Linked DNA regions of Homo sapiens. The protein of the gene in region 2 purifies or fractionates together with the protein of the main gene of each other region. This does not show direct contact. Each region holds a gene or a part of one and is shown on either strand. Other genes may lie near its edges.

What was found. Proteins that work in one complex are often made in the same cells at the same time.
Region 1: the proteins of DHDH (region 2) and ATRN purify together in Homo sapiens (co-immunoprecipitation; 2 studies listed by BioGRID and IntAct, with this or other methods). This does not show direct contact.

The regions. Positions count from the first base shown.
Region 1 is NC_000020.11:3,473,378-3,481,017, reverse strand, and holds part of ATRN (attractin isoform 1 preproprotein), read right to left. Parts: intron 1-7,640. UniProt on the Homo sapiens protein: Involved in the initial immune cell clustering during inflammatory response and may regulate chemotactic activity of chemokines. May play a role in melanocortin signaling pathways that regulate energy homeostasis and hair color.
Region 2 is NC_000019.10:48,936,046-48,944,325, reverse strand, and holds part of DHDH (trans-1,2-dihydrobenzene-1,2-diol dehydrogenase), read right to left. Parts: coding exon 8,131-8,280; intron 4,878-8,130; coding exon 4,625-4,877; intron 1,887-4,624; coding exon 1,762-1,886; intron 1-1,761.

The DNA.
Region 1 (7,640 bases), on a different chromosome or scaffold from region 2:
TAAGTGGGAAACAAGTATCATAGTAAGTTAATGGCCAATTTCCAGACACAAGTATTTCAAAAAGTACAACTATAGTTTCATTTCAGTTTTGGAAATATGATTGTATTAACAAGAAAAACCAGTGTAAGATTTCTGTTCAATCATAACACTAGGTACTCACTTCTGTATTTCTTAAGATAAAAATAACCTACAAATGTATTAAATCACTTAATCACATTTATATGATCAAAACTGTTCTGATCATAAACACACACTCTCCTTTTTCTCCTGCGTACATACCTGTCCTCTATACTGCGGTAAATAAAAAGCATCTGCCCATCTTGGGAACCTTTCATCGAGGTAAAGTCTATGGTAATTTGTTACAGAAGCCCTAACTGACTAACCCTAGTCAGCTGGCTCTACCTCCCTCCCTCTGTATGTTAGGAATTGTTCTACTGTAAGTGGAAGGAAATCCAACTCTAACCGGCTTAAGAAAAACATGGACTGCAGTACTTCACAAACCAAAAACTACACCTTCAGGCAAGTTTTGATCCAGAGATTCAGAAAGTTATCAGGTCTCCGGCTCCATTTCTCTGCCATCCTCCATCTTCTGGGAGTTGTTCTGACCTGAGGTGAATTCCTTACAGCAGCAACGCTAACTCTTAACAGTTCTAGGCATTATGGCCTCGCCACACAGAAAAGAAGGCAACACATGTCCTTCTAAACGCCCACAGAGGAAAGGGATCTCCGACAAAAGTCCTGAGATTCACTCTGATTGAGTCCATTAAAATCAATCATAAACCCATTTCAAAACAATCAGCACGGCCAGAAACTGGAATGCCCTGAGGGCTTATCCTAGGTCAAGCATAAACCCAGAAGCTGGAGATTGTTGGGAAGGGACAAAAAGAGGCCATTATAACCTTACAACCTCACCCCCTTCCTTCCATTACACCCCTCACAAGTTATGTTCCAACAACAGGCACCTACATTCAGTTCTCCAGGTGCTGTGGGTTGTACTGTGTTCCCCAAAAAGATATGTCAAAGTCCTAACCCTGGGTCCCTGTGAATGTGACCTTATTTGGAAACAGGGTCTTGGCAGATGCAACAAAGTTACGATGATGTCATACTCGTTCATCCACTATGACTGGTACCCTTAAGAGAAAAGACAGAGACACAAAGGGAGGGAGAGTATCACATGAGATTGAAGGGACGGAGGCAGAGGCTGAAGTGATGCATCTACAAGCCAAAATGCCAAGGACTGCTGGCAACTCCAGAAGCGAAGAGAAAGGCATGGAACAGATCCTCCCTGAGAGTCTTCAGAGAGATCGTGGCCCTGCCAGTACCTTGATTGCAGGCTTCTAGTCCCCAGAACTATGAAAGAATAAATTTCTGTTGTTTTATGCCATGAGTTTGTGGCACTTCACTGTAACAGCCCTTGGAAATTAATACACTAAGTATGATAATCCATAATTCTTTGCCTTTGCACATCAACTCTTCATTCCTTCTGGAATGTCTTTCTCCCCCAGATGGTCTACTCACACTAAACCTCTCAGACCTGCCCAAATGTCCTCTCTTCTGTGATGTCTTCCACCAGAACCCCCAAAAGAGTTAAGTCAATCACATCTTAGTCCAGCACCACATATTGCCTGTATTTTTATTATGAAATTCTAATTGCTGTGTACGTAGCTGTCTTCCCTTCATAGTTATAACTTCTCTTAGGGGAAAGCAAGGCCTGATTCTTACACACCTTCATATCCTCAAGGAAGGGCACAGTACCTAACACACAATATTCAGCAGATATTTATGAAGTGAATTAGCAGATGACTCATTTCAAAAGAAGATAATAGGGGTCAGGTGCAGTGGCTCATGCCTGTAATCCCAGCACTTTGGGAGGTCAAGACGAGATGATCTCTTGGGGACAGGAGTTCCAGATTGGCCTGGGCAACATAGTGAGACCTCATCTCTACAAAAAATTTAAAAATTGGCTGGGCACACTGGCCTGTGATCCCAGCCACTTGGGAGGCTGAGGTGGCAGGATCACTTGAGCCCAGGAGCACTGCCCTCCAGCCTAGATGACAGAATAAGACCTTGTCTCTCAAAAAAAAAAAAAAAAAAAAGGGTATGAATTATAGATTATAGAGAACTGAAGGTGGGCCTTGGTAAGTAGAGATGAAAAGAAAGAATGGGGGAGCAGTGAGGAGGGAGGTGCTGAATTTAGCAAACACAGAAAAACTACGAAGTAGAAAGATTTGGTTAGGAAAAAAAGGGATGTGAAAGGAATGGGATCCTTCTGCTGAGGATCATTTTAGAGGTAATAAAAGAAGCAAAATAAGAGACACATGTTTTTGTTTTTTATTACACTTTAAGTTCTGGGATATATGTGCAGAACGTGCAGATTTGTTACACAGACATACACGTGCCACAGTGGTTTACTGCACCCATCAACCCATACTCTACATTAGCTATTTCTCCTAATGCTATCCCTCCCCTATCCCCCTACCCACCGAAAGCCCCAGTGTGTGATGTTCCCCTCCCTGCTCCCACTTACGAGTGAGAACATGCGGTGTTTGGTTTTCTGTTCCTGTGTTAGTTTGCTAAGAATGATGGTTTCCAGCTTCATCCATGTCCCTGCAAAGAACATGAACTCACCATTTTTTATGGCTGCACAGTATTCCACGGTGTATATGTGCCACATTTTCTTTATCCAGTCTATCACTGATGGGCTGGATAGCCCATCAGTGGTTGGTTCCAAGTCTTTGCTATTGTGAATAGTGCTGCAATAAACATACGTGTGCATAGAGACACATGTTTTTTAGAAGACTGATATGACAAAGTGTGAAGCAGACTCTGCAGGTGTAAGAAAACAGTAAAAGTGCAACAGAAGCAGGTCAGCAATGAGGTGAAGGGTTAGGTACATTAGAATGGCAGCAGAAGAAATGGAAAGAAACAAATTTATACAGTGTGAGAGCAGAAAAAAACAAACAGGTAGAAAGAGCCAAAGATTACTGCTAAGTTTTGACCTTTGGTTAGCTAAATTTGGATTTAGCTAAAACAAATAAGGAAGTACAAAGAAAAAGACTATTTTTTTCAATGAGGATAGAAGTTTGGTGTTATACATGATTCAGTATGAGGTGACAATAAAAGATGCCCACCAAACAGTGGATGACAGAGAAGTTCAGGAGCAATATAAGGACAGAAGACATATATGGCAGTCATGTGGGTAAAGACGACTTTTTTAAAAGTCATAAGAAGTAAATTACAGAATTTTATTCCTTCATTCAACAGATATTTACTGCTCACTATGCTCCAGGCCCCTGCCCTCATGGAACTTACATTGCACTGGGGAAAGCAGATCAGCCTAAACTGGACTTGTGAACTATGCTCCAGGCCCCTGCCCTCATGGAACTTACATTGTACTGGGGAAAGCAGATCAGCCTAAACTGGACTTGTGAACTATGCTCCAGGCCCCTGCCCTCATGGAACTTACATTGCACTGGGGAAAGCAGATCAGCCTAAACTGGACTTGTGAACTATGCTCCAGGCCCCTGCCCTCATGGAACTTACATTGCACTGGGGAAAACAGATCAGCCTAAACTGGACTTGTGAACTATGCTCCAGGCCCCTGCCCTCATGGAACTTACATTGCACTGGGGAAAGCAGATCAGCCTAAACTGGACTTGTGAACTATGCTCCAGGCCCCTGCCCTCATGGAACTTACATTGCACTGGGGAAAACAGATCAGCCTAAACTGGACTTGTGAACTATGCTCCAGGCCCCTGCCCTCATGGAACTTACATTGCACTGGGGAAAACAGATCAGCCTAAACTGGACTTGTGAACTATGCTCTGGGCCCCTGCCCTCATGGAACTTACATTGCACTGGGGAAAGCAGATCAGCCTAAACTGGACTTGTGAACTATGCTCCAGGCCCCTGCCCTCATGGAACTTACATTGCACTGGGGAAAGCAGATCAGCCTAAACTGGACTTGTGAACTATGCTCCAGGCCCCTGCCCTCATGGAACTTACATTGCACTGGGGAAAGCAGATCAGCCTAAACTGGACTTGTGAACATAAATTTAGGGCTTGAGGTTGACATCACTTAGTAATTACTATAAGAAAAAAGTTTTAACTTTTCACTTCTTCACATTTTGTTTTCAAGAATTTTCTTTCTTTCTTTCGAGACAGAGTTTTGCTTTTGTTGTCCAGGCTGGAGTGCAATGGCACAATCTCGGCTCACTGCAACCTCTGCCTCCTGGATTTGAGCGATTCTCCTGCCTCAGCCTCCTGAGTAGCTGGGATTACAGGCGCTCGCCACCATGCCTGGCTAATTTTTTGAATTTTTAGTGGAGACGGGGTTTCACCATGTTGGTCAGGCTAGTCTCGAACTCCTGACCTCAGGCGATCCGCCCGCCTCAGCCTCCCAAAGTGCTGGGATTACAGGCGTGAGCCACTGCGCCCAGGCAAGAATTTTCATTTCATTAGTTAAAAAGGTATTTATGTCCTCAGATCGTCAGCCAGAGAGACTGAAGTGAATTTAAGATTTTTAAAATGTTAGCTTTCCTATTGTAAAAATCTATTTTCCTTCCTTTATTTCTCAAAATGTTTGTTGGAATTAGGTCAGTCCTTCAAAGAACGTCCATAAAGAGTGACTGGACTCAGAAAAAAATGAGACGCCAAATGGTATAATAAAAAGAACACAGGTTTGGGCATTAGACAACCCTGAGTTCAAATCTCAATTTTGCACAACTTCTGTGACCTTGGACAAGTTATTCAGTACATCCAAGTTTACTCATCTGTGAAATGGGAATAACTTCACTCTAAGGACTAAAAGGGAGTTATTTCTAATAGGCAGTTGGCACTATATACATATTTTTTGTTTTGCTTTGTTTTTTTGTGACAAGGGTCTCGCTTTGTTGCCCAGGATGGAATGCAGTGGCATGATTATGGCTCACTGCAGCCTCAACCTCCTGGGCTCAAGCCATCCTCCTGCATCAGCCTCCCATGTAGCTGGGACCACAGGCACATGCCAACACACCCAGCTAACTTTCTTTTTTTTGGTAGTGAGGAGCTCTCACTTTGTTGCCCAGGTTGGTCTCAAACTCCTGGGCTCAAGTGATTCTTCTGCCTCTGCCTCCCAAAGTGTTGGGATTACAGGTGTGAGCTACTACACCCACCCACTATTATTACTGTATGTGCTGGGCACAAAACAGATGTCTGATAAGTGCTTAGTTCCTTTCTTTTTTTTTCTACAGAAGGTACATCTTAACATTATCAGGCTCAATCCAATTCACCAGATTATTCTATTCAATTCTCCCAAACATTTTCTACAGCAGGAACTTAAAAGAATTGAATGAATATTAAATTCAAAAATGAGCTTAATTTATCCTATGGGCATATTTATCCTTCGAAGAAAAATTACACTGGTGACCTTACAAGTAGAAAAAAATGATCACTGAATTATGAAGATTCACATAAGAATGAACGAAAGTGGTACTGCCTTAGAAATCACACACCAAAGATTCTATAGGTATTTTTATTAAACTGACATCCTTTAACTTATCCTTTAAAATCAGTCATTTCTATGTCATCTTTTATTTAGAAAAAATGTTACTAACTACAATAATTCAATAATCTAAATTTTATATAACACCCTCAGAGTTGTCCTGAGGATTAAATAATACAATGTACATGAAAATGCTCTGTGGCACATAGTCTGCACTCAGTGATAACCTTAGGGAAATCCACTCCTCGTTAGCCTACGTTCCCTTCAATTAATGAAAAAACCCTATAACGGCAATTATAACACAGGATTTACAGGACTAAAAAGCTCAAAAAACACTCCAACTTGATGCCATTCTAAATCAGAAAGGTATTCATTTAATGTCTTTTAATAACAAAGAGGTTTGTAAGTTCAATCAAGATACAAGCCACTGCAATCAAAACCAACATTTCACTCTTGCCCCCAAAAGAATACTTGGACTAAATTTTTTTTTTTTTTTTTTTTTTTGAGATGGAGTCTCACACCCTCGCCTGGTCTGGAGTGCAATGGCGCAATCTCGGCTCTCTGCAACCTCCGCTTCCCGGGTTCAAGCAATTCTCCTGCCTCAGCCTCCCGAGTAGCTGGGATCACAGGCGCCTGCCACCATGCCCAGGTAATTTTTTGTATTTTTAGTAGAGACGGGGATTCACTATGTTGGCCAGGCTGGTCTCAACTCCTAACCTCTTGATCTGCCCGCCTCAGCCTCCCAAAGTGCTGGGATTACAGGCGTGAGTCACCGCGCTTGGCCTCGACTAAAATTTTATTGAGTTTTTGTTGTTGTTGTTGTTGTTTTGAGATGGACTCTCGCTCTGTCACCCAGGCTGGAGTGCAGTGGTGCGATCTCGGCTCACTGCAAGCTCTGCCTCCCGGGTTCACGCCATTCTCCTGCCTCAGCCTCCCGAGTAGCTGGGACTACAGGTGCCCGCCACCACGCCCGGCTAATTTTTTGTATTTTTAGTGGAGACGGGGTTTCACCAAGTTAGCCAGGATGGTCTCGATCTCCTGACCTCGTGATACACCGCCTCGGCCTCCCAAAGTGCTGGGATTACAGGTGTTAGCCACCACGCCTGGCCTACTGAGTTTTTTTTAAAAGACCAGAGTCATAAGTTCCTCCTACTTTCATTTTTAAAAATGCAAAATCCCAAAGCCCACAAAATATAATGGTATCATCAGGACCAAAGTCATAATTGTCTACCCAGGAAACAGCACTGACATCACCTAGAATCAGCTCAAAGGGAATGTCCACAATAAGCAGGGGAGTCCCTTCACTCACCTGTGACACTATTTGAGACAACCAGTGTCAGGACTGCCTGTTCCCTGCAACAAGTAGCTCTTATCCAATCCTCTGGGCTTTCCATGTGGACTCTCAGAGAGAGCTCCCTGGCAATCTCCCTCATAGGTCGATGACTCCAAACTTAACATCTGCCAGGTGTGTACTCTGAGAGCACCCCAAACTCAGCATGCATGCAATTAAATGTCTAACACCTGCTCCTGTGTCCCTGTGTCTGTTAATGGTATCACTGTCCTCTCAACCACCCAAGACAGGATCTAGTTTTCTTTCCCTCACCATCCCCCACCTTTCCAAGAGCAAACCAGTTTACACGGAAGACTTGTCCATTTCACCTCTACAAGCTCTCATTACCACTGCTCTGACCCATGCCAACAGATCCCACCTAGCTGCCCCCTATCTCTCATGCCCAAAGTGAGTGTACCTACTCTGAACATTACAGATTGATCTTGCTATGAAGTCCCCTTCCCACACCGCTGGTCCCCACTGCCTACCACAGTGTCCCAGGTTTTCAGAACTTGAAGGATCCTCGTCTGACTCAACCATCCATTCACCTGACCTTGGAAGCTTCTCAAATGGAAAATGCCCTGGCCTCACCTTCAAGGCCATTTGTATTCTGGCTCCAATCTAAAAGCCTATAATGTCATGAAAATAGGCGTGAACTACGCCATTTCACAGCTCTTGGGCTAAAGGTCAAAATTCTCAATCCAACCCACAGATCTCCACTTGGCCTGGCTTCCCGCCTTTCTCTCCAGTCTTGCCAAGCTCCCCTTTGCTCTCTCTGCTCCTGCCACCTGGCCTTCCATCCGCTTCAACCCCAAGCCTCTGTACCTG
Region 2 (8,280 bases):
TTCACCAACGGTGCTGCTGAGGCTGCCTCCAGGAACATGCCAGGTGGTGCACAGGGGCCTCCCTCTTGAACCTGGTGGCTAAGAGCTTGCCCTGTCCATCCCCGGGGAGCTTTGGACCCTCCTTCATTTCTAGTTGCTAGAAGTTTGTTCCTTAGCAACGCTGATGTGACACAAAAATCCTGTCTGTCTCCCCAGGAGCAAACCTCTCCCTAACCTTAGGAGCTTAGAAACAAGGTGTTCTTAAGGTCTAGAGAGGAGGGCTTATCTTTGTGTGTCTGTGAACCATGTTTTCTTCTTATTTATTTTCTTTCTTTCTTTCTTTCTTTTTTTTGAGATGGAGTCTCGCTCTGTCGCCCAGGCTGGAGTGCAGTGGATCAATCTCGGTTCACTGCAACCTCCACCTCCTGGGTTCAAGTGATTTTTCTGCCTCAGCCTCCCGAGTAGCTGGGATTACAGGTGCCCACTACCATGCCTGACTAATTTTTTTTTTTTTTTTTGTGAGACGGAGTTTCGCTCTTGTTGCCCAGCCTGGAGTGCAATGGCTCGATCTCGGGTCACTGCAACCTCCGCCTCTCGGGTTCAGGCAATTCTCCTGCCTCAGCCTCCTGAGTAGCTGGGATTACAGGCATGCACCACCACACTTGGCTAATTTTTGCATTTTTAGTAGAGACAGGGTTTCATCATGTTGGTCAGGCTGGTCACAAATACCTGACTTCAGGTGATCCACCCGCTCTGGGCTGCCAAAGTGCTGGGATTACAGGTGTGAGCCACCGCGCCCAGCCTGTATGTTTTTTTTAGTAGAGACGGGGTTTCACCATGTTGGCCAGGCCAGTCTTGAATTCCTGAGCTCAAGTGATCTGCCTGCCTTGGCCTCCCAATCACGCTGGGATTACAGGTGTAAGTCACCATGCCTGGCTATAAAATAGGGTTTTTTTTTTTTCTAGCAACAAGGCCCCAGGAAGACCAGTTAAGCTGACCTTTGGTAACACCCAGATCCTCCCCCGGATGCACTTCCGAAATTCACAACTGCCCACTAAGCATGGTTGATAATAACTGGCTTCTCCTCAGGACTAAAGATAGATATTTGAGACAGGATCTCACTCTGTCACTCAGGCTGGAGTCCAGTGGCACAATCACAGCTCACTGCAGCCTCGACCTCCAGGGCTCAAGTGATCCACCAGCTTCAGCCTCCAAAGTGCTGGGATTATAGGTGTGACCACCGTGCCGGCCAGGCCCAAGGATACATATATATATATATATTTTTTTTTTTGAGATGGAGTTTTGCTCTTATCACCCAGGCTGGAATGTAATGGCGTAATCTCAACTCACTGCAACCTCCATCTTCCGGATTCAAGCAATTCTCCTGCCTCAGCCTCCCTAGTAGCTGGGATTACAGGCGCCCACCACCACACCCAGCTAATTTTTGTATTTTTAGTAGAGATGGCGTTTCACCATGTTGTCCAGGCTGGTCTGGAACTCCTGACCTCAGGTGATCTGCCTGCCTTGGCCTCCCAAAGTGCTGGGATTACAGACGTGAGCCACCGTGCCAGCCAGGCCCAAGAATATTTGACAGAGCAATAGGTTCATCCTAAGTAAGGAGAGCCTAGAGGCCCAGAACCCACCTCTTGGCTTGGTTAAGGAGGAACTCTTTAGCAATGATGTGAAATTGGCTGGTTAAGCTCTCATCTAGCTCCAGAGGCCATTTGTCCCCCTCCTATTTTAGGGGCACGATCCCCAGCGCTTGGGCCCGCCATGCCTCACCTGTACCATGCCCTTGGTGCCGCTCACGGAGGCCGTGTTGGAGAGCTGCACGGTGATGCTGCAGGTGAAGCTGCCATGGACCTCCCCTGGGTACTGCAGGAGCACCGTGACAGTGTCATCCACACCTGGAGGGAAGTCCTGGGTCAGGGCAGGGTCTCTCAGGGCAGAGTCTCTGAGACTGCACAGGCCCCAAATCCTGCCTGTGGAACCTTGGGCAAGAGACTTCACTTCTTGCATGGCAAGGCAAAAGAATGAAGTGCTGGCTGGTCGCGGTGGCTCACGCCTGTAATCCCAGCACTTTGGGAGGCTGAGGTGGGCAGATCGTGGGGTCATGAGATCAAGACCATCCTGGCTAACACGGTGAAACCCTGTCTCTACTAAAGATACAAAAAATTAGCCAGGCGTGGTGTAGTCCTGTCGTCCCAGCTACTCGGGAGGCTGAGGCAGGAGAATGGCGTGAACGTGGGAGGCGGAGCTTGAAGTGAGCCGAGATGGCACCACTGCACTCCAGCCTGGGCGACAGAGCGAGACTCCATCACACACACACACACACACACACACACACACACACACACACACGAAGTACAGTCTTGGCTGTGCACAGTGACTCACACCTATAATCTCAGCACTTTGGGAGGTGGAGGCAGGAGGATCCCTTGAGTCCAGGAGTTCAAGACCAGCCTGGGCAACATAGTGAGACCTTGTCTCTACAAAAAATAAAAAATTTAGTTGGGTGTGGTGGCTTGTGCCTGTGATCCTAGCTACTCAGGAGGCTGAGGTGGAGGATCCCTGGAGCCTGGGAGGTCAAGGTTGCAGTGAGCAATGATTGTGCCACTGCACTCAGCCTAAGTGACAGAGTGAGACCCCGTCTCAAAAAAAAAAAAAAAAAGCCGGTGGTTCATGCCTGTAATCCCCAGCACTTTGGGAGGCCAAATGTGTGTATTGCTTGAGCCCAGGAGGTCGAGACCAGCCTGGGCAACATGGGGAAACTCCATCTCTACAAAAAACAAACAAACATAGCCAGGCGTGGTGGCCCACATCTGTATGCCCAGCTACTTGGGGGTCTTACGGAGGAGAATCGCTTGAATTTAGGAGGTTGACGCTGCAGTGTGCCAAGATCACACCACTATATTCTACCCTGGGTGGCAAAGTGAGATACTATCTAAAAAAAAACAAAAATTACAGTCTATTTGCCCATCTCTGAAAACTGAGCTGGCCATGTAACTTGCTTTGGCCAATGGGCCAGTAGCAAATATGGTGTAATTAGAGGCCTGAAAAGTGCTTGCACATCAGGAATTCTCACACCACGATATGAATGGTATCTAGCCAGCTGGAGAGGCCAGGTGGAGGAGAATCAAGGCTTCCCAGACAGTTGCCTGCCACCTGTAAGATATAAATGAAGCCTACCAGACTGTCCAGTCCCAGCTGAACAGCCAACTGACTGCAGCTGCAGGAATAAGACCAGCAGAAGAACCATCAAGCAGAGCCCAGCCCCAATTTGCCAATGCACAGAATCACAAGCTAATAAATGATTGCTATTTGAAGTCACTAAGTTTTTTTTTTTTTTTGAGACAGGGTCTGGCTTGCCGGGGGCGGTGGCCACACCTGTAATCCCAGCTCTCGGGGAGGCAGAGGCGGGAGGATAGCTTGAGCCCAGGAGTTCGAGACCTGCCTGGGCAATATAGCGAGACTCTGTTCTCCACAAAAAGGAGACAGGGTCTGGCTCTGTTCCCCAGGCTGGAATGCAGTGGCACCATCTCAGTTCACTGCCACCTCTGCCTCCCAGGCTCAATTGATCCTCCCACCTCACCTTCCAGAGTAGCCGGACTATAGGTGCACACCACCACGCCCAACTAATTTTTTTTGCACTTTTCGTAGAGACAGGGTTTTACCATGTTGGCCAGGGTGGTCTTGAACTCCTGGCCTCAAGTGATCCGCGCACCTCAGCCTCCCAAAGTGCTGGGATTACAGGCGTGAGCCACCATGCCCAGCCTGAAGTCACTAAGTTTTGGGGTAGTGTTATGTTTTTTTTTTTTTGCGGCTGAATGTAACTTTAATGAAGCATGAACTGCCTCTTGCTCCTTGGGGTTAAAGGTCAAAGATGAAGGGCATCACATCTGGGTGGCTCAGGCACTCTTGGATACTTTCCAGCTGAGTGGAAGCCAAGGCAAGGGCCTCTTCTGCAAAGTGGGGCAGCTTTTTTTTTTTTTGAGATGGAGTCTCACTCTGTCGCCCAGGCTAGAGTACAGTGACGCCATCTCAGCTCACTGCAACCTCCGCCCCCTGGGTTCAAGTGATTCTCCTGCCTCAGCCTCCCAGATAGCTGGGATTACAGGTGCCTGCCGCAATGCCTAGCTAATTTTTGTATTTTTAGTAGAGATGGGGTTTCATCATATTGGCCAGGGTGGTCTCCAACTCCTGACCTCAGGTGATCTGGCCACCTCGGCCTCCCAAAGTGCTGGAATTACAGGCGTGAGCCACCACGCCTGGCCAAGTGGGGTAGTCTTTTTTGTAGCAAAGATTCACTGAGACAACTTCAAAAAATAATAATTTTATATTTATTAACTGCCATTTGCCTCAGCAGTTACTTCATTAACTCCCATGACAACCCTATTAGTGACACTTTACCAGTAAAGTAATTAAGATTCAGAGATGTTAAGTCTGCTGGCTAAGATCACACAGCAAAGTCCCAGGAGAGTGCCCACCTGCAGTCTTGACTCTGATCCTCTCTGGCTTCATGGAAAGTTGTTCCTCTAGGTGTCTGATCTAATTCTCATTGACTTGGAGACTTGTCCTCAGTTCAGTGCTCCCAGAGAGACAGAATCATTCCCATCACCATGAAATATTCCAGGATAGATGGTACCTGTTTCATGACGCCTTCCCACGACAGAAATCTTCTCTGGCTTCTGCCCTCCAAAGACCATGGAGGTGAACTGGACACAGTAGATGCCGATGTCCAGCAGGGCCCCCCCAGCCTGGGCCCGGTCTACGGCCCGGGGAACGTGGATGAGATTCTTCCCAAATTCTGCCCGAGCCACCCGGAGGTCTCCTAGAGTTCCCTGGGCCAAAACAGACCTCAGAGCCTCGGAGGCAGGAAAGAAGCGGGTCCAGATGGCCTGCAGACCACAAGGAAAGGAGTTAACCAACCAGTTCTAATCCCTTCTGGGGTCCCAATCATAGGGGGATACCCACTGCAACCCAGTCTCCAAACACAGCCCATCAGTCCCCAGGTTGTATCCCTCTTGCTCCTGACCCTCTTGACTTTTCTTCTTTTTCTTTTTTTTTTGAATAGAGATAGGGTCTCACTATGTCGCCCAGGCTGGTCTCGAACTCCTGGGCTCAAGCAGTCCTCCCACCTCAGCCTCCCAAAGTGCTGAGATTACAGGCATGAGCCACCGTGCCCTATTGACTTTTGTTCTTTTTCATCTGGACCATTGCCCCAGTCTCCCCATGTTATGGGATGAATTGTGTCTCTCTCCCTCTCGCTTCTGCCCTGCCAAACACAATTCACGTGTTGAAGCCTTAACTCCCTAGTACCTCTGAAAGCAACTGTTGTGGCCACAGGGTTTTCAGAGAGATAATTATGTTAAAATAAGGTCAAGGCTGGGCACGGTGGCTCACGCCTGTAATCCCAGCACTTTGCGAGTCCACAGTGGGCAGATCACGAGGTCAGGAGTTCGAGACCAGCCTAGCCAAGAGACCAGCCTGGCCAACACGGTGAAACCCCGTCTCTATTAAAAATACAAAAAATTTTAGCTGGGCGTGATGGCGCACGCCTGTAGTCCCAGCTACTCGGGAAGCTGAGGCAGGAGAATTGCTTGAACCCGGGAGGTGGAGGTTGCAGTGAGCTGAAGATCGCACCGTTGCACTCCAGCCTGGGCGACAGAGCGAGACTCCAACTCAAAAAAAAAAAAAAAAATGAGGTCATTAGGGTGGGCCCTTATCCAATATGACAATATGACTGGTGTCCTTATAAGAAGAGATTAGATGTAGGTATAGAGCATGCAGGCCAGTGGGTTTAAGAGTTACGTGTGCATCTCCTAGTGAAACTCCTTAAAGGAGGCATATAGATACAGAAGGTAGAAATAAAACTCTTTGTTCATAGATGACATCATCTATGTAGAAAAATGCAAAATGACAACAACAAAAAAAAACTCCTGGAACTGGGGGCTGGGCGCTGTGGCTCATGCCTGTAACCCCAGCGCTTTGGGAGGCCAAGGCGGGCGGATCACCTGAGGTCAGAAGTTCCAGACCAGCCTGGACAACATAGCAAAACCCCGTCTCTACTACAAATACAAAAATTAGCCGGGCGTGGTGGTGCATGCCTGTAATCTCAGCTACTCGGGAGGCTGAGGCAGGAGAATCACTTAAAGCCGGGCAGCGGAGGTTGCAGTGAGCCGAGATCACGCCATTGCACTCCAGCCTGGCGACAGAGCAAGACTCTGTCTCAAAAACAACAACAATGACAACAAAAACCAGAGTTCTACCTCTTGGAGCACCCAGTCTAGAGAGACAGAGAACAGGCAACCAAGGGATGAACAAAGGAATACCAAGGACACAAATAAAATGGAGGGTCCTTCACGCAGGACAGCCGGGACGGTGACACCCTGAGGAGGTGACATTCCAGGGGAGACGGAAGCTCCGTGGACTAGGCAAAGAGCCCAGAGAAAGAATGTCACGGGAGAGCCGGGAGAATGGGCAAAGGTCCCAAGGCTGCACTCCAGCAATTTCTTTTTTTTTTTTTTTTTTTTTTAAAGACAGTCTCGCTCTTGTCGTCCAGGCTGGAGTGCAGTGTCGGGATCTTAGCTCACTGCAACCTCCGCCTCCCGGGTTCACGCCATTCTCCTGCCTCAGCCTCCCGAGTAGCTGGGACTACAGGCGCCCGCCACCACGCCCGGCTAATTTTTTGTATTTTTAGTAGAGGCGGGGTTTCACTGTGTTAGACAGGATGGTCTCGATCTCCTGACGTCGTGATCCGCCCGCCTCTGCCTCTCGAAGTGCTGGGATTACAGGCGTGAGCCACCGCGCCCGGCCAATTTTTGTACTTTTTTAGTAGAGACGGAGTTTCGCCATGTTGGCCAGGCTGGTCTTGAACTCCTGACCTCAGGTGATCTGCCCGCCTCGGCCTCCCAAAGTGCTGGGATTACAGGCGTGAGCCACCGCATCTGGCCCACACCAGCAATTTCTAAAAATGCTGACGCAAGAGTGTCAGGGCTCACGGGGGAAGGGCGGGGCAGGACGGATGTGGCCGAGGTCCGCCCGGGCTCGGAGCAGTCGAGAGGAGCGTGAACACAGGCCTGAGGGCACTGGGGAGCCGGGGGCAGGCTCTGCGCAGGCTCTGAGCCTGGGTGTTGTGGCAGTAGGCTACTGGTGCCCCCAAAGATATCCACGACCTGATGATCCCCGGAGTCTGTGAATGTGTGACTTTACAAGGCTAAGGGGTCCTGGCGGATAGGATTACATGAAAGACCTTGAGGTAGGGGCCGGGCGCGGTGGCTCACGCCTGTAATCCCAGCACTTTGGGAGGCCGCGGCAGGAGGATCACTTGCAGTCATGAGTTTGAGACCAGCCTGGCCAACATGGTGAAACCCCGTCTCTACTAAAAATACAAAAATTAGCTGGGCATGGTGGCGGGCGCCTGTAGTCCCAGCTACTTGGGAGGCTGAGGCAGGAGAATCGCTTTAACCTGGGAGGTGGAGGTTGCAGTGAGCCGAGATCGCGCCACTGCACTGCAGGTTTGTAGGGGGTTCCTTGGTCCTTTCAACCTCTACCTGGAACCCCACCCAAACTAAGCCATTGCCATTCTATGCCACTTTCACTCTTGGCATCTTTTTCTTGTTTTTTTTTTTGTTTGTTTTTTTTCTTGTTTGAGACGGAGTCTCACTGTGTTGCCCAGGCTGGAGTGCAGTGGCGCAATCTTGGCTGACTGCAAGCTCCGCCTCCCGGGTTCACGCCATTCTCCTGCCTCAGCCTCCCAAGTAGCTGGGACTACAGGCGCCCGCCACCACGCCCAGCTAATTTTTTGTATTTTTAGAAGAGATGGGGTTTCACCATGTTAGCCAGGACGGTCTCGATCTCCTGACCCCGTGCTCCGCCCGCCTCGGCCTCCCAAAGTGCTGGGATTACAGGCATGAGCCACCGCGCCCGGCCGGCATCTTTTTCTTAAAGACTGACAAAAGATCCAAGCAATTTCAGTAAGCCTTGCCGTGTTTGCTAAGGGCCAAAAGCAATGGCTTTCACGGTAATAGATGCTGCCAAGGAGATTCAGATACATCCTGGCAAATGCACTGACCCCGTCCGCGCACTGGCAACCATATTTAATGGCAAGCACTTTTACGCTGGATATTGGAAGGGCTCCTCTGCCCTCACCTCCATAAGGAAGAGGGCTCGGGATCGGGCCTCCGCGACCATCTCGCGAACTTCCGCCGCGTTCACGCCCGTGGGCTTCTCGCACAGAACGGCCTTGCCCGCCGCCAAGCACAGCATCACCGCCGCCTTGTGCTGGGGGTGCTGGGTGCC